4 separate regions of the Homo sapiens genome follow, and all the other regions are linked to region 4. The links come from fine-mapping of genetic effects on plasma protein levels. A gene starts in region 4. Each other region holds a variant in brackets. All regions are shown on one strand. Distances are from middle to middle.

Region 1 (4,015 bases), 27 kb after region 4:
CAGCTAGTAAATGGCAGAGGTGGGATTTGATTTCAGGACTGCCTGACTCCAAAGCCTATGTTCAGAGGGACCACTGGGGGGCAAACCCAGGGCCCAGTTGAAGGGGTTCCCATCTTACGGTGCTCTACAGGCACAGGCTCAGGGCTTTCATTTTTTCCTTGCTCATTAACAAGCCATATCGGTGTCCCTTGGCCCTTGACAGCCCCCTCGGTGGCACCCTCAGGACTCAGCGGAGGAGGTGGAGCCCCCGGAGAGCTCATCGTCAACTGGACGGTAAGCTGCAAGGGTCAGATGTCCTCCTCCTCCTCCCTGACCCCTCTCCCGCTTGAGCAGCTGCAGAAAGGACCACTGCACAGCTCTGACTCAAACGCGGATAACTTCCTGTCCCCCTTCCACGCACCCGCTGCCCCTTACGCGAATCCACGCTGCAGGCGTAGGCGTCCAGGGCCGCTACTCTTGGCAAAGGTTGGGTGGGGCCAGGGAACGGGCAGGGACACATGCCGCGGACCCTCGCCCATGCCATGCTCTTGCCCCTCAGCCCATGTCACGGGAGTACCAGAACGGAGACGGCTTCGGCTACCTGCTGTCCTTCCGCAGGCAGGGCAGCACTCACTGGCAGACCGCCCGGGTGCCTGGCGCCGATGCCCAGTACTTTGTCTACAGCAACGAGAGCGTCCGGCCCTACACGCCCTTTGAGGTCAAGATCCGCAGCTACAACCGCCGCGGGGATGGGCCCGAGAGCCTCACTGCACTCGTGTACTCAGCTGAGGAAGGTGGGCTGCCCCTGGGCCCCCTGCTCGTCCCTACCCCAGCCACTTGTCCACAGGGATGTGGGGTGGGGGAACGCTACTCATCTCCCAGCTCAGTTCCATAGGAGGAGGTTGAGAGGACACCTGGGTTCCACATCATTGGCCTCACTTCCAGCTCTTGCTACCTTGTCTCCCTTCGGGGTTAGGAAAAGGGAGGCTCTCTGGGAATAGAAGTGGGCCCTGGAGCATTGCTTGGGGGGCTCCCACTCGGCCTTCATCCTGAAGGCTTTCCTCCAAAATCTTAAGCAAAGGCAATCCTGGTTGGGGGCTGCTCTGCAGGACACAGGGGGGCCCTGGGAATCCAAACCCATTCTGTATTGGTCCCCAGAGCCCAGGGTGGCCCCTACCAAGGTGTGGGCCAAAGGGGTCTCATCCTCAGAGATGAACGTGACCTGGGAACCCGTGCAGCAGGACATGAATGGTATCCTCCTGGGGTATGAGGTGAGCACCAACCTGGGACTTGGGAGAGGAAGGGGTGCTGGGGCTTCAAAGCCAGGTGGGAACAACTCACAGACCACTAATCATTCCTCCTGGCGTCCCTGGTTCGCTGACATGGCAAACTGAGCATCCAGTCTGTGTAGCACTGTGAATGCAAATTTCACTAAGACCCCATGGCAGGCCAGGCGCGGTGGCTCATGCCTGTAATCCCATCACTTTGGGAGGCTGAGGCGGTAGATCTCCTGAGATCAGGAGTTTGAGACCAGCCTGGCCAACATGGTGAAGCCCCGCCTCTACTAAAAATACAAAAATTAGCTGGGCATGGTGGCCCATGCCTGTAATCCCAGCTACTCAGGAGGCTGAGGCAGGAGAATCGCTTGCGTTCAGGAGGCAGAGGTTGCAGTGAGCTGAGATTGCGCCACTGCACTCCAGCCTGGGTGACAAAGCGAGACTCCATCTCAAAAAAAAAAAAAAAAAGACCCCATGGCTTATGCCCATTGGGGAAGACAGACCCTGGAGGCAGCCTTAAAGTAAATGCTTGGCTAGAGCCAGCATTGGAAGCTGAGAGGGTAGAAGGAACAGGTTCTGGGAAGGGGCATGGCCTGCCCCTTTCATCCCAGAGCCCATTCAGGCTGGCCTGTCCAGGGCTGCACAGAAAACAGCCTGAGCCGCTCTATGGACAGTTGATCATCCTGTCCCGGGGGAATCTGGGGCCCAGCAGTCTGGCCTGAGTCCTGGGCCCACTGAGAACTCCACAAAGGGGTACCTGTGGAGCAGATGGCAAGTGATGGGAAGCAAGAGGGAGAGAAAGAAGGAAAAGCAAGAAGAAACCATCAAGCTGGGCCTACTAGTGATAGCACAAGTTCATTCTAGTAGAGTACTCTAGATTTGAGTACAATAGCTTAGGCAAGCCACAGTGTGGAGATAATTCCAAACTCTGCCCTTGCCTCTGCCTTTGAAAGCATATTTAGCAGGTCTTCATGCTATGATTACCATGAAAATGGGTTTGCATTTATTAGGCAACCTTCAGAAGCTTGCTTAGGGCCAGGGGACTACTTTGCAATACAAATAAGCATTTTCTGTCCCTTAGCAGAATGCCCACGGTAGCCCCCCAAGTTAATGAAATGAAATGGGTTCCAGCAGGCCATTGCTAGGTTGAGCCTGTGCCACCAGCTCCCTCCCTGACCCATGTCTTGAGCACCTTCCTTGAACTACGCACCAACAGACAGCAGGGACTCACACCCACATGGCCCTGCTGTCTGGGTGCTCATGATCTAGTCTCCAGGTTCTGAGGCCTAAGACTGGGTCACAGGGACCAGGATGAGCAAGAGAGGAACAGAATGTGGGGGCCGGGGCAGCCCTGAGATCCTGGGCTTGACTACTACCCCTTGGGTACCCCCGCCTCCTTCAGATCCGCTACTGGAAAGCTGGGGACAAAGAAGCAGCTGCGGACCGAGTGAGGACAGCAGGGCTGGACACCAGTGCCCGAGTCAGCGGCCTGCATCCCAACACCAAGTACCATGTGACCGTGAGGGCCTACAACCGGGCTGGCACTGGGCCTGCCAGCCCTTCTGCCAACGCCACGACCATGAAGCCCCGTGAGTCTGTCTGCCTGGGGTGGGGGTAGGGCAATATTTTGGAGGGTGGGTGCCTCTGAGATCATTCCTTCCCCAATGATAAGACAAATGCTCTAGCCCACCAGCTCTGGGCTGAACAGAAATTAGGCAGCGAGCCTAATGGAAATAAGGGAATGGAATTCATGGCCCCTGAAGCGTCTCACACTTCTCCAACCTTTGGATTTTCATGGGCTTTGTTTCGTGGGCATGACAGAATGTGCTGGGTGTAACTGCTAGAGGCAAACATCCAGAGAAGGGCTGG[T/C]TAAAGGTGAGGGGGTGCGGGGTGCCAGGGAAACGTTTGGACATCTCTCCAATTCTTCCTCTCTGGCAGCTCCGCGGCGACCTCCTGGCAACATCTCCTGGACTTTCTCAAGCTCTAGTCTTAGCATTAAGTGGGACCCTGTGGTCCCTTTCCGAAATGAGTCTGCAGTCACCGGCTATAAGGTGAGGAAGCAATCAGCTAGGCCCAGAATGGGAAGGAACAGCTCCTCTGTGTTTCCAGTGAACATAAGCAGCAGCAATTTATAGCAAGAGGCATCTGAGTGAGACATAAGCAAAGGGTTTGTGACTGTGAGAGGAATGAAATTCATGAACTATTCTCTCAGTAACTTGCAGTAGAAACTATAAAAACGGGCAGATGGTATCACTGCAGAAAGGCAGAGTTCACAGGGGCAGTGATGGACTATGGGGATGGAGTATGGGGGTTCTTCTAGCTTAAGGAGTCTACGGAAACAGTTCAGTGGCCTGCAAGCTTTCCTCCACCAATGAGGAGCTTTGTCAATGGGGAGGAGGGGTGAGGAGGCTGGACCTCAAGAGCCCAGAACCATCGGGTCTCCTCCCAGTACCTAAAGCTGGGGATGACTCAACGATCAGCCCTGGTGTCAGGAAACTCCACCTGGAAACCTCCTTCCCACAGATGCTGTACCAGAATGACTTACACCTGACTCCCACGCTCCACCTCACCGGCAAGAACTGGATAGAAATCCCAGTGCCTGAAGACATTGGCCATGCCCTGGTACAAATTCGGACCACAGGGCCCGGAGGGGATGGGATCCCTGCAGAAGTCCACATCGTGAGGAATGGAGGTGCTGCTCCTCCCCTACCCTTATCCCCTCGAGAGATTCAGGATCCACCCAGATACCTGAGAGGATC
Region 2 (3,999 bases), 22 kb after region 4:
GGAGGCCAATTCCCCTCCTGTGACAACAGTCACAGGAGTTGGCCAGCCCCAGGGACAACCATGCCTGAGTTGGCCACATCTGCCTTGTCCTTGCCACAGAGTGACTGTAACTCCAGATGGCACCTTGATCATAAGAAACATCAGCCGGTCAGATGAAGGCAAATACACCTGCTTTGCTGAGAACTTCATGGGCAAAGCCAACAGCACTGGAATCCTATCTGTGCGAGGTGAGGGCTGCCATGTGGGTAGGCCGGGGGCTCAGCCTCCTCAGGGTACTGTCCTCCCCATCATCCTGCTCCTGTGTCCACATTGCTCCTAGTTTGGTGTCAAGGCCACCCCAGGATTCAGTTTTGCTTGGGACCACCCCCTGGCCACCACTGAGACTCTGGTCATGCCTCCCTGCCTGCCACACACTCATGCAGTCCTGGGCAGTTGGGACCTGTGGGTCACACCACCTCTTCTCTTTGCTGGGCCTTAGGACAGAGCCTCTCAGCCTGCCCTGCGGACCCGGCCTGGGCCCATTTCCTCCCCCATCCACCCAAGGGCCTTGTTTTTCTTGGCAGATGCAACCAAAATCACTCTAGCCCCCTCAAGTGCCGACATCAACTTGGGTGACAACCTGACCCTACAGTGCCATGCCTCCCACGACCCCACCATGGACCTCACCTTCACCTGGACCCTGGACGACTTCCCCATCGACTTTGATAAGCCTGGAGGGCACTACCGGAGAACTAATGTGGTGAGACCTAGGGCCAGAGCCCCATGGCTTCTCCCTCCTTCTAGAGAGACAGGGGCCCCAAGATGTCCTTAGCCATCCTCACCTTTAAGAAACCCATAGCCTAAGCGCCCCCATTCCCTCAGGCCCACACATGGCAAGCTCATCCTTGGATGAACAGC[T/C]GACCTTCCTGGATTCCACCCAGGGACCATGCATTTAGGAGAGGGTTAGGGACAAACCTGGAGTTGTGGGCAGCCACCAAGACACTCCCACTACTGTTCTTGTTAGCCTGTCCCCTAGGGCAAATGATATTATTAATGTGGACAGTCATTGACTGTCTCCTGAAACAAACTTTGCTGTTTAGTCCCCAGTGGTTCTAAGTGATGAGTCGTGATTCCTCCCATTGAGCAGACAGGAAAACTGAGATCCAGTGGGGTCCATGGATGTCATGGAGTAGGGGACTCCCAAGCGCTGCCTCATGTCTCATGGCCTGCTGCACTGGTCAGGGCCGGTGGTCTGACCTGCTGCCCCTAACTGTCCCCGTGTGCAGAAGGAGACCATTGGGGATCTGACCATCCTGAACGCCCAGCTGCGCCATGGGGGGAAGTACACGTGCATGGCCCAGACGGTGGTGGACAGCGCGTCCAAGGAGGCCACAGTCCTGGTCCGAGGTGAGGGGTTTCCCACCTCTACCCCTACCCCAACTCCCTTAAAACCCAGCTGGGCTGTTCTGACCTGCTCGCCTCATCTCCCCTCCCTTCCCTCAAAGCTGCGGGGAAGGGCTTCCGGCGGAACTCCTGTGAGCTGGATATACCCTGTGGTTCTTCACAGGTCCTAAATGATCAGGACATTTTTCTTCCAAAGTCAAAGTTTAAAAAATCCACTCCTAAACACATCCCAAGACAGGAGTGCTTTACTGAGCCCTGAAGTTTTCAAAGCCTAGTGCTGGGAGATCTATGCACCTCTCCATGTGACAGCCTCTGTGAGCTCCCCCAGCCTTGAGACACATCCCTCCACCCAACAACTGGCACCCGCCCCAACTGCCCACACCCCTTGCCCGCCCTCCCGCCTGGGTGTGTGTTCACTGCATCCTCTGCTGCCCTGTCTTGGTACTGTACCAGCTCAAGCCTGGCTGGGAGGAGGTTGGCTCAAATTGGAAGCTGCCCAATTCTGACCCACTGTGCTCTGACCTCTTGGTGCAGGTCCGCCAGGTCCCCCAGGAGGTGTGGTGGTGAGGGACATTGGCGACACCACCATCCAGCTCAGCTGGAGCCGTGGCTTCGACAACCACAGCCCCATCGCTAAGTACACCCTGCAAGCTCGCACTCCACCTGCAGGGAAGTGGAAGCAGGTTCGGACCAGTAAGTGTGAGCCCCACCTGGGTCAGTGCTGATAAGGCTCGACTGGGTGTAGGAGGTGGAAAGGGTCAAGGTTTGGGGATCGGGGTCTGAGGGCCAGGGCTGAGCCTGGAGCTTCAAAGAGGGACAAGATCTGTCCTCTGCCAGCAGAGAGCATGCAGGCAGGCAGGAAGACAGTCACACAGAAAGTAGGAGAGTCGGGAAAGAGTTAGAAGAGGAGGCGCTTGGTCTATGCCCTTGAAGAATTGGTAGGATTGTTACTGGAGCAATGAAAATATTCATGGGGACATAGGGGCGTAGGCGTGCACACAGCATTGCAGAGGCACCAAGATAGGGAAATTGAGTAGTTTTTCAATCATTTCTGAAAAAGGTACTGAGTGCTTAGTATATGGCAAGTACCGAAGTGAGGGCTGGGTAGATAAGGGGTGATTCAGGCCAGTGCCTGCCCTCTGCACCCAGATGAATAAGCGAATGCTGGAATATGGACTCCCTGGTGCCTTGCAGATCCTGCAAACATCGAGGGCAATGCCGAGACTGCACAGGTGCTGGGCCTCACCCCCTGGATGGACTATGAGTTCCGGGTCATAGCCAGCAACATTCTGGGCACTGGGGAGCCTAGTGGGCCCTCCAGCAAAATCCGGACCAGGGAAGCAGGTGAGAGTCCTGTGTGTCCCAAAAAGCTATCATCAGGGCAGAGACCCTGGCACCACTTATAGGGAATGCCAAGCCAGCCGCAATTATGCTGAGTTCCAACCCTGCTCACAGGGTTCAGACTCTCACAAAACAGAGGAGGACAGAACACCAAGTTGGGACCAGGGCCACTGCATGGACAAACCATCTAGTCCAAACTCCTCATTTAAAAACTGGCCAACCTTACAACTGCATGTGCATCTATAATTTTTTTAAGTTTAATTTTTAAAAGTGGAAAAACCAAAGTTCGGAGAAAGGAAGAGTCACATTGACAGAGCTTGGACTTGAACCCAGGACCATGGGGTGGTAGACAGATGTCTTCCTGGAAGAGTATGCACTACAGAAATCAGTTAATGCTGGCTGGGCGCAGTGGCTCAAGCCTGTAATCCCAGCACTTTGGGAGGCCGAGGCAGGCAGATCACCTGAGGTCAGAAGTTTGAGACCAGCCTGGCCAACATGGTGAAACCCCGTCTCTACTAAAAATACAAAAATTAGCCAGGCGTGGTGACACACACCTGTAAATCCCAGCTACTCGGGAGGCTGAAGCAGGAGAATCGCTTGAACCCGGGAGGTGGAGGTTGCAGTGAGCCAAGATTGTACCACTGCACTCCATCCTGGGCGACAGAGCGAGACTCCATCTCAAAAAAAAAAAAAAAAAAAAAAAAAAAAGAAAGAAAAAAAGGAAATCAGTTGATGTGAAAGATGTGTGTGTGTTCTGTGCAGGGGGCTAGGGAAGCAGCCAGTGTCTCCAAGCCTTTAGATGGTTTCTTTGGGAGCAGATGGAATTGAATAACCTGCCCACAACCCTCAGCAAAAAGCGTGTGGGTGTCAGAACTTGAGTGGAGAAGGAGGGGGAGAAAAGAACCCAGGAGAGAGTAGGGGAGGCACAGGCTCCAGTCAGCATCTGCTGAGAGGCTCCTGCCCATCTCCGAGCCATTCGCAGGGGAAGGCCTGGAATGAGAGCCCGGGGATCCTGGGACCAGGAGCATAGATTAAGGACCCTGCCTCACCTCCTCTACAGACCTGTTGCACTGGATGTGTAGTGAGGGTCCACCTTCTTGTCTGCCTGAAACATGTTCTCCTACATGCCCCAGACTGACTCTCCAGGCCCTTTTTCTAGAATCACTCAACATTTTTAGCTGGTACCTCTCCTGAGTAAGAAATTCCAGAGGCAGCACTTTCTTTGATTGATCCTGAACTTCTTGGAGGGTCAAATGTGGAGAAATGAGGGGACTC
Region 3 (8,131 bases), 14 kb before region 4:
AAGAGTGAAGGCTCTGCCCCCTCTTGCCCAGCTGCCCACAAAGGGCTGGAATCTGGGAATTCATTACAGCCTTTCTCATCAAGGAGGCCTCTCCTGTCCAACATTATTTTAGGTGGAGAAAGGCGGGGGAGGGGGACCCATTTCAGCATCCCCCTCCCCACTTAACGCATCAGAGCCCATTTGTTTGATGTCAGTTCCTGCTGGAGCACCGACCAGGCAGTGGGCCTCAGAGCAATTTAGAGCCACAGCTGTGGCCCGACAGCCCAGCCCCCAGCCCCCAGCCCCAGCCCCCAGCCCCCAACCCTCACTCCTACTCCCACCCCAGAATTTGCTGCTGATTAGCCCCAGCCACACACACACCCCAACCACCCCCCCAACCACCACCAGCAAGAAGCATGGCTTTGTGTAGACCTGGGACTCGGTTGAGTCTGATAAGGTCTGCACACAGACCCTCAGCCCTGGCCGGGGCTCACTGGAAACTCACCTCACCCACACTGAACCCAAACAGGAGTTCTGACTGCTCAGCTTCGCGCAGAGACAACTGCAGAGAGTGAGAAGCTAGAGGACGGGATTCTTCCACACTGAAACAAACACACACAAGGACATCTCCTGTGCTTAAAACCCCAAATACCTTCTCAAAAGGCTGAATCCTAGTAAACCAAGGGTCCAGGCTTGATCTGGGTACAGAGGTTGCAGATAGCATCTGGGGAGAGCTTTGTATAATAGAGAGGGGGAGATTTTGGACCTACAGGGCAATCCAGGGGGCAGCAACTGAGGAGCAAGAAACAGCAGAAAGGAGATTAGAGGAGTGGTTCTCAAAGGGTGGTCCCTAGACCGGCAGTATCAGAACCACCTGGGAACTTGTTAGCAGTATCAGAACCACCTGGGAACTTGTAGCAATTCACATTCTTGGCTGGGCACAGTGGCTCACGCCTGTAATCCTAGCACTTTGGGAGGCTGAGGCAGGTGGATCACTTGAGGCCAGGAATTCAACACCAGCTTGGCCAACATGGTGAAACAAACCCCTTCTCTACTAAAAAACACATTCTTGGGCCTCACCCTATATCTACTGTATCAGAAACTCTGGGATTTGTGTTCTCACAAACCCTCCAGGTGATGCTGATGCAGGCATCATGTTTGAGGCCCCTAGATGAGAGGGACACACTGAAAAACCTGTGTATGCCTGGATGTGACCCTTCTTCACGTCCCCCGAATTGGCAATCAAGCCTACTACATTTGTGAATTTGCTTCTTGTGAATGGATGTTTTATGCAAACTAGCAAAGTTGCTGGACTTTACATCCAAATTGATGCAGGGCACAGAGACTGCAGAAGAATAGAGGGGTCAGAGCATGAACCCCCAGGAATTAGCAAAAATGGTGAGGGGGGCTTGGACTTTCACAGTCCATGGAATTGGCAGGGGACTGAGCTGTTTATACATTACTGTCAAAGAGGCAAGAAGGCACCAGATGGTATTTGGGTCACAACACATTTACATGTAAGTGACTTAAGAGGAGAAGGGGAACGAATATTGTTGAAACCAACTGCATGAGGCACAGTGATGTGCATTTCATGCCAATGCTCTCTTTTAGCCTGCACACCAGCCCTTTGACGTAGGTAGCTTTACATCCTGTTTTGCATGAGGAAATTGTGACTCCAAATAGCAGAATAATTTTTTTTTTTGAGACAGAGTCTCACTCTGTCACCCAGGCTGGAGTTCAGTGGCATGATCTCAGCTCACTCCAACCTCCGCCTTGCTGTTTCCAGCGATTCTCCTGCCTCAGCCTCCCAAGTAGCTGGGATTACAGGTGCCCACCACCATGCCCAGCTAATTTTTGTATTTTTAGTAGAGACGGGGTTTCACCATGTTGTCCAGGCTGGTCTCGAACTCCTGACCTCAGGTGATCTGCCCGTCTCAGCCTCCCAAAGTGCTGGGATTACAGGCGTGAGCCACTGCACCCGGCCCAAATAGCAGAATAATTTGCCCAAGGTAAATGACAAAGCCAGAACTAGCTGCCAGTTTGGTCTGACTAAAAAACCTCCACTTTCACTACTGTGATTGGGGTATGAATGGGCCTCCCTGTGAAGAATCAGCCCTGGTGCCTGTGCCTCAAAGGCATCATGCCAGAGCAGCCCCTGCCAACTCTCCAACATGTCCCCGCAACCGTTCGCCCCCCTCCTCCGCTCTGGGTAGCAGGACGTGCAGGCTCCTGAATGCCCCAGGAAACCCCAGGAGAAGGTTGTGGGTGCCATGCAGCTCGTGGTCACATGATGAGGGGGCAGCAAATTACAGGTGCTCAGCTTTCTGCAAATGTGCCCTAAGTACCAAGTAAGAGCCAGGACTCTGCAGACAGGTCAGGCACTAGCTGTGTGACCTCAGGCAACTGACTGAACCTCTCTTTGCCTGAGTTTCCTCATCTACAAAATAAGGGTTGTCATTGTAGCTACTTTGTAGGTTGTTGTAAGGATCAAATCAATTGAAATGTGAAAAGTGTCTGAGGCATAGGAAGCACTATATAATAATGTATTACATTTAAATAAATGAATGAATCACTTTACACTTTCCCCTCTGCTGTCTACCCAAATGTTCTTCCAGACTCGACACCCTCCTTCAAAAACCCTCCCAATCCTTCAAAGCAGGCTCAAATCCATTTCTCATAATCCCCTTGGCCCACGGGGCTAGCTCTCTCGAGAGCTTTTCTCAACCTTCTTGCTCCTCCAGCAGGGACTTGTCTGACATTGCAGAGACTTTCTCCTGTATCTGGCCAGGCTGCAAACCTGCGGAGGGCAGGGCCAGTACTTTATGCCTCTTGTACCTTTGTGGCCCCCAGTCCTGTGCCCCACACATAGTGTGTGGGGGTCCATAAATACATGTTGACTGATCCTTGGGACCCGCAGTCCCTGCAGGGTAACCAGATCCCATTTGTATTCAAGCTGTCTGCGTTACTGTATTTATTGGCCGGCTAGTGGTTTAGTCCATGGTGTATAGGGGTTAGGGATGAGGAGGGGGCAGGCAATATTTCTCTTCCTAAAAGCAAGTTTACCAGGTTCCAAGTGGCTGGATGTAAGGGCCAGTGATGAGTGTTGAGAGCTGGGGTTCACTCTACAGCCCCATTAATTAACTTTCCCCAAGTCCCCTAAGTGCTCTTGCCTCCCGTTAAAGGCCAGCAACCCACCGTCATTCATCAGAAAGGACAGTCCATCCTTCACTTCCCTCCCTCCTGCTCCTTCTAGCTCCAGCCTGGCTGTTAGGACACACTATGACCCTCAACTCACCCAACAACCCGTGTGGCAGAAGAGGATAAGGCTGGATGTCCAAAGGCCTGGGTTTGCCCCAAGAATGACCCCAGGACAGGACTCAGCCAATGTCCTTTTCACAAGCCCCACAGCACTGGGTCCCCATGGATGTGGATGCGGTTACCTCTCTGGGGTCATTTTACACCAAGATATAGGAGCCTGACTCCCAAGCTTAGAGCTTCTTCCGGGCCATAGGCATTCGGGGTTCCTTCCTTCTCAACACTGACAACACCCCTCCTCAGGGAAAGATGGTCTGGCGAAGACCGACATCAATGCAGTCAGCCCTAAGACCCAGAGGAGCTCACGTCTTCCATCCTTCTCCCTACCGAGTCCCAGCAACAATCTCCGTGAAAAGCAAAAAACACACAGAAAATCTTTCCTTCCAAATTACTGCATCAACCTCCTTCCCAAGTTTTCTGCAGGGCGTGCCCTGGTGTGGCTGGCATGGGTGAGGCCGCTGGCTGACTGCGGGGAA[C/T]GTGCACAGGGCCCACCCAGGACCCCAGGAGACCCCCTAGTCCCCTCTCAATTATGTGCCTGTGGTTCAGACCCATGGAATGTCAGGGCTGGAGTAAGCCCAGGTCCAGTCCCCTTGTCTTACAGATTCCACACACCAAGTGCTAAATCCAAAACTGGCTCCCATACCGCACAGCAAATGTACCCCCCCACCTTCCACATGAGCTAATGCGTCCTCAGAGAAAGCAGACTCACATTTCAAATGACGGCCACCAGACCTCATCTGAAAGAGCTGAGGGCTTTTCCGGGAGGAAAAAATACACAAACTTAGAAATAGACTCATTCCAAAGCCAAATAGCAATCATCTGGGATTTTCGGCTGCCCCAGACCCTCCACAGCCCACGATCCTCCTATGAAAGCTGGCAGCTAGGGCTGTGGCCAGTTTGGGAAAGTTGAAGGCAGGCACAGGCAAGATGGTAAATCTCAGGCAGCTCATCCCATGCTAAGCTGAAGAATTTGTAGGTGTGACTTTGGTTCCCAGAAGCAGACTCCAGACCAGGGCCTCTACACCCCCTTTCTTCCCTCTCCCTAACCCCGACATGCACCTCCTTCCATTTACCATTCCCCAGCCCCTCCTCAGAGCCCTCAGACCACTCTCGCAGGTCCATCAGTGGCTTTTAAGTGAGTCCCCAGCTTTCATCCTATTAGTGAGCCGGGGAGTAATTACGACTTCATTAGCCAAATAGGTTCTTGGTTCAGAGACTCCCTCCTACAAAACAAAACACACACCCGCTCCCCTCCATCTGAAGTCTGTCCCCGGAGGCCTGCAGCTAACAATGCAGTGGCTTCGGGGAAAGCCAGCAGGAAAGGGGGAAGGAGAGAGGGGAGGCCGGCCATGGGGAGGAGGCCCCCCGCCCTCCTCCAGGGCGCATCTGTCAGCTGGCCCCATAGAGACCTGTGACAGGGAGAGGGATGACACTCCAGCAAATGAGGCCGTGACCCCTCCGAGCCGTCTGCTGTCCCTTGCCCTCTGGCCTTGCTCACCCCTCCAGTTATGGGCTTAACCCATGGCCAGTGCACTTCACAGATGGGCAGGCAGCCTCCTCAGCTGAAGGCTCTCTGGGCTAATGTCCAGGGCCTCCAGAGGGCAGGGTAGTCCTGGCTCCCCCGCCCCATCTCCCACCCTATACTTCAGCTGCTGCAGCTCCAGGAGCAAGGAAGCCATGGGTCTGCCAGAAAGGACAAAGCTGTGACCCCAACCTCCCTGGCCAGGGGAACTTTAGCCAGCCCGCGGCCACCAGACCAGGCAGGCAGGTCCTGGGAAAAATGCCACAACCCCCGGCCTCTTATCTGTCATCCCACACCTCAGCATTAGAAAGAGTTTTCTTTGGGTCTGTATGAGCTCTGCATTGCAATTAAAACCATCCACACTTGGGCAATCGCGTACCCTCCTTCTCTTTTCCTATTCTTTTAATGGATTTTAGGAGCATGGAGTCTAATCCTCCTGCCTCTGAGTGGGACCCAGCTAGCCTAGTCTATGCCAAATCTTCCTGAGTTTCTCTAGCCAAACAATGCTAATCACAACGTCCCGCCTCTCCGCCAGGTCAGGTAAGCATCCAGGATGAGGCCACACCCGCTCCCATCACTCTTTTTTTTTTCTGAGACGGAGTCTTACTCTGTCACCCAGGCTGGGGTGCAGTGGCACGATCTCAGCTCACTGCAAGCTCCGCCTCCCGGGTTCATGCCATTCTTCTGCCTCAGCGTCCCGAGTAGCTGGGACTACAGGCGCCCGCCACCACACCAGCTAATTTTTTGTATTATTTACTACAGACAGGGTTTCACCGTGTGAGCCAGGATGGTCTTGATCTCCTGACCTCATGATCTTCCCGCCTCAGCCTCCCAAAGTGCTGGGATTACAGGCGTGAGCCACCGTGCCCGGCCTCCATCACTCCCATTGCCCACTCTCCGCTAGGAGAAGAGGCAGGCTCCCTGCAGACCCTCTGGCATGTGCCTCTTTGTCCATGCAGCTTCCAAAGAGAACTGGCTGCTTCTTCTGGGGGCTTTGCAAGTAACAGCTGATGAATTCTCATTCCTGCTGAGGGCCCCTCTGCTTGGGTCCTCCACCGGCAAGATGCCATCTGCTGAGGCTGGACCCAGAGGCAGAGGGATAGATGAGATGACCTCCAGACAGCCTTGCCATTTACAAGACTCCAAGCTATGTACAGCCTTGGCCCTGGCTCTGGCTCTAACTTGACCCCATTCTGTCCCCAGGTCCAACGACTCAGCCTCCATCCTCCCTCCCCACCACCCCAATCTACAACCAGTCCAGAAGCCAGGCAAGAGGACCTCTGCTCCTTGCCCTTCAAGGAAAAGGAGTCCTCAGAGGCCAGCCCAGCTGTACACACTGCGCCCCTGCTTGTGTTCCCTGAAAGCAACCGTCCTTTTGTTAATTCTGCCATTTCCCAAAGTGCCAGGAGCATCTCATCTGACAGCCACAGCATCTGTTCTTCTCACTCTCCAGAAGGTTGGGTGGGAGCCGTGCCAGCTTTTCCCCAAGGCTCTCCCAGCCTCACGTTCCTTCTGCCTGAGTTGGACACCCTGCTCACCTGGTCCCCTGGGGGCACCTCCAGTTCCCTCTCTGCATCCCTGGCCCCTGGCACCTCTTCCTATGACCACGGTTGGCAGCCTCGATAGCCATCTCCCCTCCCGGGGTCAAGCTCACCTGGCCAAGCAGATGGGCACCTATCCTCTTCCTTAGGGAAATGCAGGGAAAGTGGCTGTTTTCCATTTGAGGCCTGCCCAGGGCCCCTAGCAGGTATAGGAGCCACAGGCTGCCAAGGAAGGGAGAAGACTCATGCTTGGTCCTTTCCAGGGCCCCCTCCCTCGGTACATACAGCCTTTGGAATGCTCCATTGATTCCAAAGCAGTGAAGTTCTGGCTAGTTCCCCAGCCCATAAGACCCACTGGGAGTCTGGCCTGGCCCTGCCCTAAGCTTTAGCACGGGGCTCCTTCGGGCCGGGAAATTCTTAGGTGGTGGGGGCTGACCTGTGCACTGTAGGATGCTTAGCAGCGTCCTCACCTCTACCCACTAGATGCCAACAACACACCTTCTACCCCACACACACTCCCACTGTGATAACTACAAATGCCGCCAGACCTTGCCAAATGGCCCCCTAGTTGACAACCACTGAGCTAAGGCAAAAAAGAAACCCAACACCTAAGTGTCAGTGACTGACATCCCCCTGGTTTCTGATTCCTAGGCTGCAGGTGACAGAGGCATGGCTTAAACCAGGGATCAGCAAACATTTTCTGTAGAAAGCCAGATAGTAAATATCTTCAGCTTTGTTGAATGAATATCTTCATACAGCCTCTGTTGCAACTACTCGACTGCCGATGTGGCATAAAAGCAGCCACAGACAATATATAAATGAATGAGCGTGGCTGTGTTCCAATTAATCTTTATTTATGAACACTGAAATTTCAATTTCATATGATTTTTATGTGTCGCGACATCTTCTGATTTTTTCAACCATTTAAAAATGTAAAATGCATTCTTAGCACACTCTATGCCGCTGGCTTACAGGAGCTCAGAGGGATCAAAACACCTGGGGCCCTGTTGACCGGCTCCTAGGAGATTAACAAAGCCAAGGGCAGGGTTTGAAGTTGTGAATGAAGTCCTGCGCCTCTAGGACAGGGAGGAAGATCATTCTTTGGCCCAGTAACTCCAGGTACTGTTTTTAGTGGGGAAACCCCACTGACCTGAGCAGGACCAGCCACGTAACTTGCAGTGAGTGCCCAATGCAAAATGAGAATACTAGGCCCCTTGTTTAAAAGTGATTGTAAATTCCAAGACAGCAGCAGAAAAGCATTAAACCAAGCATGGGGCCCTTCTGAGCACAGACTCTACACACAGGCTGGGGATCCAGAAAGGTGGCCCTGGACCTCAGTCTACCTCCCAGAGAGGTCTGCACCCACCTCACAGCCTCTGCCAGCTCAGGCTCATCCTCTGACCCTGGTGGACAGCTTCTCCCAGGGGCCCTGCATGATGACACCTGGCTGAGGCAGTGAATAAAGAGTTAAACCTGGCTCATGCTCCCTCTCCATGCTGTGTGCCCTGGTGCAATTCTGCGTCTGCTTTTTGGGGTAATTTGCTCAACTTAGGTTGGTACTGGTCCTGCCTCCAGGGCACCCAGGGTGGAGAGAGAAGTAGCCACTTGTGCCCCAACACAATTGGTTGTTTATTTGCCTGGTGAGGCTTGGGAATGAGAAAACATTTTAACTGTGTCTTGAAGGAAGACTCTGAGTTTACCAGGTAGACCAGGTGTTTGTGGTATGAGCTGGAGGAGGCAGGGAAGAGATGGTGCCAGGAAGAAGCAACAGCTT
Region 4 (8,131 bases):
GGCCATGGCAGGGTCTCATCTCCTCCCCACTTGTCCCCAGGGATGGGGCCTAGAGGTCCCTTCTTGATCGGTTAGAGACCCACTGGATTCCATTGCTATCAATCTTGTGTGGCTACAGTAGGAAGAAGCAGATGGTCTGGGCAGGGTTGGGTGGCCCTCAAAATGCTTTCTGATCCCCACCCACCACCACCAAGGGAGCACCACATGTTTGCGGACAAATTTATAAGCCATTTGACTAGCCACCTGATTATCTTCACTGGCCCTTTCTTGCCCTGTTTGAAAGTCTGTGGGGACTCAACTTTGAGATGTGGAGTCCCAGCTCTGGACAACATGGAGTCATATTGATCAGCCACAGAAAGGAGAGGTGGCCCTTATGGTCAGCTGCACTGAAGATTGTGGGCTCTGGATGTCACCAAAGAAGAAGAAACTGTTCTGCCCCCTATTTTGCCCACCTCAAAAGAACAGACAGTAGGTAGCTGGAGTCCATGGCACGGTGGCTAAGCCAGGATGCTGGAGGCCGATCCCAGGCCTCACTCTGTCATCTAGGCTGGAGTGCAGTGGCACGATCACAGCTCACTGCAGGCTTAACCTCCCAGGCTCAGGTGATCTTTCTACCTCAGCCTCCTAGGTAGCTGGGACTACAGGTGTGCACTGCCACACTGGCTAATTTTTGTGTGTTTTTTGTTGAGACGGGGTTTCGCCACGTTGCCCAGGGTTCCACTTGTTTACTATTTCTTTTGAGCAAGTTCCTTACTCTTACTGAGCAACATCTGAAAAGTGAGGATAATAACAACATGGACCTCTTGCGCAAGTAATTCAGGTAAAGCATTTAGCACAGCTCCCGGCATGTGGGAGGCATTCAAAACAGATATTATTTCTGTTATTATCAAGCTAATGGGCCCCACAAGCAAAACTCAGCCTGCACCCCCAAATGCCCACCCCACTCTCTCCTCAGGAACAGGAGCATCTCAGAGACTGGGAGTGCAGATCCCCCTAATCTCCCCAAACTCATTCATACTAGACTTCACTGAGAGCTTCAGACAAGTGAGAAGATGAGACTTTGGGAACTGTCTCCCCATCCAAGTCTAGGCTTGGCAAATGTTCTTGTTTTCACTTATTGTGTCTGCCAGAGTCCACATGGAGCATGCTGGTTGCATTGAGATCTGAGAGTCTTTAAGACCCAAGTCACCTGTGCTAACGACCCTCCCCAGAGACCCAGCTCCCACCACAGGGCAGCAGCTGTCCTAAAATAGAGTCACAAAGACAGCTGTCTCCGTCTAAAGCAATCCTTGCAAGCATTTCCAGACTGTTGGTTCCTGGGCCAGCCTATTTCCTGGCCCGTCAGCCCCCTGCAGCAGACATAGCATCCTTTTCTTGGCAAGGACTTGTTCCTGCCGTTTTCTGCTAGGAGAGAACTTGCAGAGCCTCTCTTTGGAGCCCAGGCTGACTTGAATGGTGCCAAAGAGCAAGGTTCACCTCAGGAGCTCAGAGCCAATGTGCCAGCCCTCAGACATACAGATAGGCAAGGACAGTGTGGGCAGGGGAAGGAAGGGAAAGATATCCTGGCAAGGGGTTGATGTGTCTGTCTATATAACAGCATTCAACATTATTTAAGAAACATCATTAGCAAAATCCAAGTCCTCCCCATCAGGAACAAAGAAGACTATCTCTCAAGTTGGGCAAGCCCTTTGGAGGGGCTCAGAAGGAAAGGAGGGGAGCGCATGTGGGACCTGGGCAGACATTCCAGCCTTGGAGGCTGAGCAGCAGAACCTCCCCGACTCCTTCTCCTTTTCCAGACCCTCTCATTCTGGCCCAGGTCCCCAGGACCTCCTCCACTCAGGGAGACATGGAGCCATGATCCAGGCTTGACAGGTATAGCCATTTAAAACTGGGAGGCTGGCCTGGCCCTGCCAGCTGTTGCAGCATCTGGACTGCTCACCGGTCTTGCCTGTGCAAGCTGGACAGCAGGCAGATCAGAGGGGGGTGAGACAACAGTGACAGCCTGACAGGGCCGACTGGTGCCGCAGATGGCTGGTCCCTCCGCCTCCGGGCCACAGCCTTCCTGGGCACTCCCCCACGTGACCGGAGCAGGGCAGGAGAAAGGCATCGCTGACAAGGGTGAGCACTTAGAATCTCAGAGCTGGCAGGACTGTGTCCATCTTTAATCCCTTCAGGTACCAGCGAGGCTCAGAGAGGGCAGGGCACCTAGCCAAGCACACACAGCCAGTCGGTTGTGGAGCCCAGAGTATGCTTCAGACACCCAGACCCCTAATCCAGGGAGCTTTTCATGACATCACACTGCTGGTTGCTTAAAAATGGGATTGGATCCAAACGTACTGATGCGTAAAAGTGTCCAAGATCAGTTACACAGTTAAAAGTCTTTGGCCAATCCTACTGTTTTATGTAATCACATTTGTGTGAAATAACCCTACTAACCCATGTAATTGTATACACGAAAATAATAAACCTGGGGGCATGTACTTAGATTTATTAAGAGTAGTGGTTGAGGGACTTTCACTATGTATTTTTAAATGTCCTCTAATATTTAGATATTTTGACAAAAAGCTCAAACTACTTTTGAACAAGGGAAACAATAAAGAGGAACATGGGGTGGACCGGGCAACAGAGACAGCCCCTCCCTGCCACTTGCCCCACACAGCAAGCTGGGATTTCTGATTTGGATCTCTTCCTCGGATAGGGGATTTCTGGGGAAACCAGGAGTTTTGGCTCCATGGGTCTCCAGGGTTTGAGGAGTAAGAGCCACTTTCTTTTCCCTCTTCACCCCGCCCCTCTCCTGCCCCTTCAGCCCTGGGCAGGGGGACTAGAAGTGGGGCTGGGCAGGATCGGGAGGGCAGGCGGGCCAGACAGCGCCCCGCGGCCTGTCCATGAGCGGCCCATGCATTATGGAAGACGCGCGCTGGGCTCGCTCCCTGGTCCTTAAATGACAGCAAATGAGGTAAAGCCAGGAGGGTGGGGACGGAAGTGGGGTGGGAGGGGGGCAGAAGGAAGCCATCTCCAGGGCCCCCGAGCGTTGGCTGAGGACCAGAGCCAGCCAGTGAGCGGAGCCTGGGAGAGGGAGGAGCACATCTTGATGCAGAGATGCTGCAGTGGCTCCGGGCGCGCTCACACACACGCGCCCTCACCCGCCACCGCCGCCGCGGCCGCCGCCGCACCCGGACAGCGAGCGGCTGAGGCCGCCAGGGCCCAAAGGACAGCGGCCCAGACAGGGGCTGGCGGCCCGGCCGGCCCCGGCTCACCGACTCGGGCAGCATCCACCTGCCCCAGCCAACACCCTTCTCTCGCCCCAGGTAGGTGCCAACCGCTTTTGTCTCCTCCAACCCAGGGACTTCCCTGCGTGCTGTTATGGGCCGGGGCTCCCGGCTCAGTTCCTGTAAATATCCCCCTTGTAACTTGGGAGGGAACAGGGACAGGAACACTGGCAGGCTGGGGCCGTTCTGACTTCTCCCCTCAGCCCCAGGGTGGGTGCTGGGGCTCCCCTCCGCCCTGTCTACGTGGGCGGCATCCCGCAGGGCTCTCTCAGGCCGAGCCTGGCCGAAAAGCTGGACCCCAGGAGTGTGTCCAGGAATTCCAGTTGGCCAGCGGGCAGTGGCAGCTGCCTGTGGAGAGGGCAGTTTCTCCTGGGCCGGCCCTGGGCACCCGGTCCAGGACAGGACCAGTCCATACAGCCAGGCCCTGGGCCCTGGCCTGCCCCAGAAGTCCCTGCATGGAATTGAGCCGGAGTCCCCAGTTTTGAGGTCACCCAGGGTCTACCTCTGCAGGGTGACCTCTTTGCAAAGTCTTGCTTCAGCTGGATGGAGAGGGGGGCTGTGGAAGAGAGAGGGGAGAGTGGAGCACAAGTTTGGGCAAGGGCCTGTCCAGGAACTGGGACTCGGGGAGGAGAGTCCTGAGGCCAGTCACATCCCAAAGGGCGAGAGGCTGGGGCTACCGGGCTGAAATTCCTTTCCTTCCCTTCCCCCTCCCAACCTTAGCTTCTCCTCAAATCCCTCCCCCCCATCCTCACTGGTGGGAGGGAAGAATTTGCACAAAGTTTGGCTTTCCAGTAAGGAAAGGGGCTGGGGCCAGAATGGTATGGGGAAGGGAAGGGGCAGAGCTGGGGAGTTCTGGAAAGAGAGGGCAATCCTTCTGCCCAGCACCGTGGGGCTTACATAATGGGCTGGAGGTGGGGGGCAGCCCCAGCCAGTGAGTGTCCAGAGCTGAATCCTGTCACCTTCTCCAAGAGGGTCTCTCAGGTCTGGGAAGCAGCGGGGCATGGAGAAGGCAGTGCCTATGGAAGGGGAGAATCCTGCTGCTACTTGGGGATGGAGACGGGCACCCTCTAGCCCCAGACCCCTGGGGGTTGAGCCTGTGTCCTGGGGGGGGGGGTCCAGTGAGGCCAGGAGGGAGTGGGGTTGTGCATGCCATGGCCCCAGCCCTGGAGAAAGGTGGGTTTCAGCATCTTTTCCCTCTGCTCAGAAGGAGCTGGGAGGAGGAACAGCCCAAGAAACCCAGTGCACAGGTGATGTTCTGGTCTCGTCTGGGCAACAGTTTCGGCCTCCTCTCCCAACCGTCTGGCCAAAGACGCCTCAGCTCACTTAGCCTCCGAGTCTCTCTACCTCCTGGTCCCACTCAGAGGGGCCGGATGAGCCACTGGAGATCGAGTGCAGCAAAAGGTGGGCCACCTGTGGGAGAGGCTGCTGTGATCGCACCTGGACAGGGAGATGGCCTGGAGGTCACAACAGGTGCCCTCACTCCTGGCCTTGGGAGAAGGGAGCTCTCCCCTTAAAGACAGCAGCATCCAAGCCCCTCCCCAGGGTGCCCACCAGTTAACCCCTTTCTAGCCAAGCTGCAGAACCATGGACAGGGCTTTTGCCACAAGGTCAGAGTCCTTCCTAATCTCCCGTGGAAGTCCTCAGCGAATAAGAGGGAGGCAGGAGGTGAGACAGACAGGAAAGGGCCCCTGACCTGATGATGTCAAAGTCACCCAAGGTCCACCTGCCTCACAGGTGCAGAGACCACTGTGCTCACACCATGAGCGGTGAGGGAAGCAGAGGCACACTCCTTATGCAGATGAGTGCCTCAGACTCCAGGAGTCTGCTCTCATTCCCGGCTCTTTCTCTCTTACTCTCCTCCCTTCCTCTACTCCTTCTTTCCTCGCACTCCCTTCTCTCATCGCGTGTACTCCACCGGCTTCAGCCCTCAGCCTCCCGCCGCCACCATTTCCCCTGCCAGATTTCACTCCTTATGCAACTCCATTCCAGCACCTTCTCTGCCAGCAGTTGTTCAAATAGAGACACATGTGGGATGGGCCTCCGAGGAATTGTGCTTAACGGGGTGATTGCACATCTCGTCTCTGGCTGACCAAACTTACTCCTTAGGAGCATGTACATAGACAGGTGTACCCCAAGGCATCCTTTCTGCCTCTAAAGTCACCAGGGAAGCAACGCATTTGGGGTGGTTTGGAGGATGCATGGTGCCCTCTTCAGAAACCTCCTTGAGCCAAACGTTGGTGAGAAAGCGTATTTCAAAGACAATCTCTAAGCCTGAGTGTGGGTGGTATTTGTATTTTTGGAGGGATTCCTAGGGCAGAACCAGGGGGTTGGAGAAGAGGTGATTGATATGCAGGGGAGGAAGAACCAGAGCAAAGAATATGCCAGGGAAGCCAGAGGGACTTAAGTTAGACTGCAGGAGACACTTCCTGGCTAGAAGAGTGAGCCATGAGGAGGTGGGGCAGTCTCCTTTCAGATGACTCTAAGGATGGTGTGGAGAACTGGGGTCTGGTCCAAGGTTAGAGAGTCCTGCCTAGAGGCAAAGGTTGGGCTGGCTGACCCTGTAAATTTCTTCCAACTTCTAGTAATCCTCTTTCAAATGGTAAAAGGTGGATGTGACTCAGGAATCCATAAGAAGGCAGACATCCTTTTCATCCCCTCATGCATGCTGGCCACCCCCTCATCCTTCAGGACTACAACCCCAATCTAAACAAACCACCCAGAGGCTGTTGCTAACCTGGAACATTTATGGGAGTTTCTGTGGGCTCCGTATCCTGACGGTAACCATCCTAGAGTAAGTCCTTTCTTAGTTTGATGATTCCTTGCTACAAGATTAGCCCATGTTTCTTTGTTTACCAAAGAGAATGCAAACAAAAGCAAGGAGTGTGATATTCTCATCCAAAACCTGAACACCTCCCATCCCAGGACACACTCAGGCCCAAACGCATCTCAGTGTCCTTTTTACCTAATGAGACATTCAGTTCACTACGTAGGTGGGGAAGTCAACCCCAGCCCCTCACACACACCCATCTAGTCAAACCTGCTGGGCTTCCTCCAGCCTAAGCCCACATCTTCTCAGTGCCTGCCACCCTGAACACCCTGACCAAGGGGTTCTCCCACCCTGTGCCTGGCTGGAGGGCAGCCTTCCTGCAGTGCTGCCCAAGAGGTGAAGTTAATCTGGACCCCAAATCCAAAGGAAACTAGCTTGAGAGGAGGAGCAGGTTGGACCTCACCCCCACCAGGCTTAAGCTCTGAGCCACCCTGGAGGAAGCTGTCTAGGAACTGGGGGGAGCCTCCTTGCAGCAGAGTTGGGGGACAAGCAGAAATTGCTCTGCTAATGCACGAGGAAATTTTCTTCCTGATTTGCTTTTTCAGAAACAAGTTGAAACCATTGTTCTTACGCCTGGCATCTCAAAAAGGGATCCTTCTAAAGCCCTCACTCACTGCCTCACACCACACACAGAGCAGGGCAGGCAAGTAGGAAAACCTAAGGTCTGGGGGTGGCTGGCTTCTGATCCTGAGCTTCCCAGGAGGATGGAAGCCTCTCTTCTTCTGTCCACTCCCTACTTTAAAGGGTCTCTCTGTTAGAGTAGGTCTCTCTTGCAGGGGCAAAGACTCTAGGCTCAGATCAAGGGCCAGACTCCCCCCTGCCCAATGCTAGAAGATCAAACAAATCCATGAGCCTGGGAGCCACAGCTCTCCCCAGAGGGCACGTCAGCACCAGGGCTGGGCCTCGGGGAAGCAGCTGCAATCACAAAGAGCCTGCAGAGAGAGCTGAGCAGCTCACAGAGGGGACTAAGGAAGGACGGGGCTGCACGACACCCCTGGTCCCCATTGGGGCTGAGGAGGTCCCTATGTCCCCATTTCTGCCCTAAGGATGTCTCCAGCTCAGGGTACCACAGAGACCCCTCAGTCACAATCCTTCACCCCACCCCTGCCAGCTGCAGCCTGGCCTGGCCCGCTGAGATCCTAGCAGCCCTCACCCACGCCACCACAGAGCCCTGTACTGACCAGAGGGGCATGGGGATGGTTCAGACCTTCCTGGAGGATGATGGTGCTGTCCCAGGAGGCAATTCTTGTCTTAGGCAAAGGAAAAGGTACTGATCTTAGATCCCATCAGGCAGGAGGTGAGGGCTGTTGAGAAGGAGTACCTGCTTGGGAGTGCCTGTCCTGGCCGCGTGACCCCCTGAGCACATTGTACCAGGTATAACTCTGGCATGGGGGCTGTGTCCTTGTGCCCTAGTCTGGGGTGCTGTGCTAGTGCTTACCTATGACCATTGCACCTTTGAGGCGTAAGAGGAGGGAGGCACCTGCCCAGGAGATTGTGGGTTTGTCAGTCTCCTAAATACATATGAGTGCCGCCTGGACGTTGTGACTGTATAGAAGTAAGCCAGACAGGCACAGTGGCTGCGGACACACGGCTGTGAGATTTCTCAGTTCTAAGATCTGATCTTTCCTGAGCACTCACTATGAGCCTGTGATGGTGCTGACCTCACAGCAGCCCCATGGGGCGGGTCCTGCCCTTCTCATCCCATTCTTGCAGATGGGAGAGTGAGGCTGGGAGAGGTTAAGTAACGACTGTGATAACCAGGTTATACTAGTTAGTTTTATTAGGGTTATACTAGCTAGACAGCAGCAGGCAGGTTGACTCAATGGCCTGCCCTGTTAACCAGTGTGCTGTTTTATAGGATAGAGGTCAAGCGGGGGCCTGAAGGGCTCCTCAAGTACTTTGTAGGCTGATAATAAATCACTTAGTCTCTGCCCACAGCTGGGCTCTGAACTCCCCTTTGCTACCACCATCCATCGGAAGTTGCCAAATCTCTCATTGCTCTCCAATCTCCATTACTGGGGAGAAGGGGAGACAG

Alleles and levels. Positions count from the first base shown, and alleles are read on the strand shown. Strength reflects both the effect of a copy and how common the allele is.
For the plasma level of the protein whose gene starts at base 3,126 in region 4, T is the high allele of the variant in region 1 and C is the other (moderate association).
For the plasma level of the protein whose gene starts at base 3,126 in region 4, T is the high allele of the variant in region 2 and C is the other (weak association).
For the plasma level of the protein whose gene starts at base 3,126 in region 4, C is the low allele of the variant in region 3 and T is the other (moderate association).

The links. PIP is the posterior inclusion probability: the model's chance that the variant is causal. The UK Biobank Pharma Proteomics Project read protein levels with antibody pairs (Olink). The fine-mapping took linkage between variants from a reference panel, not from the people measured, so its PIPs are less certain.
Region 1: its variant is fine-mapped to the plasma level of the CNTN2 protein (UK Biobank, PIP above 0.99).
Region 2: its variant is fine-mapped to the plasma level of the CNTN2 protein (UK Biobank, PIP above 0.99).
Region 3: its variant is fine-mapped to the plasma level of the CNTN2 protein (UK Biobank, PIP 0.98).

What each region holds. Positions count from the first base shown.
Region 1 is chr1:205,069,289-205,073,303 of GRCh38, forward strand. It overlaps CNTN2 (contactin 2), which reads left to right. Exons shown (of 23, transcript NM_005076.5): 17 at 203-273; 18 at 539-773; 19 at 1,138-1,250; 20 at 2,659-2,845; 21 at 3,195-3,307; 22 at 3,780-3,948. Among named protein-coding and RNA genes, the nearest start is that of TMEM81, 13 kb to the right of the region's middle. RefSeq lists an enhancer at 3,130-4,015. The variant T/C (reference allele first, on the strand shown) is at 3,126.
Region 2 is chr1:205,064,524-205,068,522 of GRCh38, forward strand. CNTN2 (contactin 2) reads left to right here. Exons shown (of 23, transcript NM_005076.5): 12 at 100-227; 13 at 564-739; 14 at 1,266-1,386; 15 at 1,918-2,076; 16 at 2,578-2,727. Among named protein-coding and RNA genes, the nearest start is that of TMEM81, 18 kb to the right of the region's middle. The variant T/C (reference allele first, on the strand shown) is at 898.
Region 3 is chr1:205,026,445-205,034,575 of GRCh38, forward strand. No RefSeq gene overlaps it. Among named protein-coding and RNA genes, the nearest start is that of CNTN2, 13 kb to the right of the region's middle. RefSeq lists an enhancer at 1-156. The variant C/T (reference allele first, on the strand shown) is at 3,771.
Region 4 is chr1:205,040,087-205,048,217 of GRCh38, forward strand. CNTN2 (contactin 2) reads left to right here and starts at 3,126. Exons shown (of 23, transcript NM_005076.5): 1 at 3,126-3,308. RefSeq lists enhancers at 2,820-2,964, 2,912-3,056, 7,123-7,627 and cis regulatory regions at 2,892, 2,984.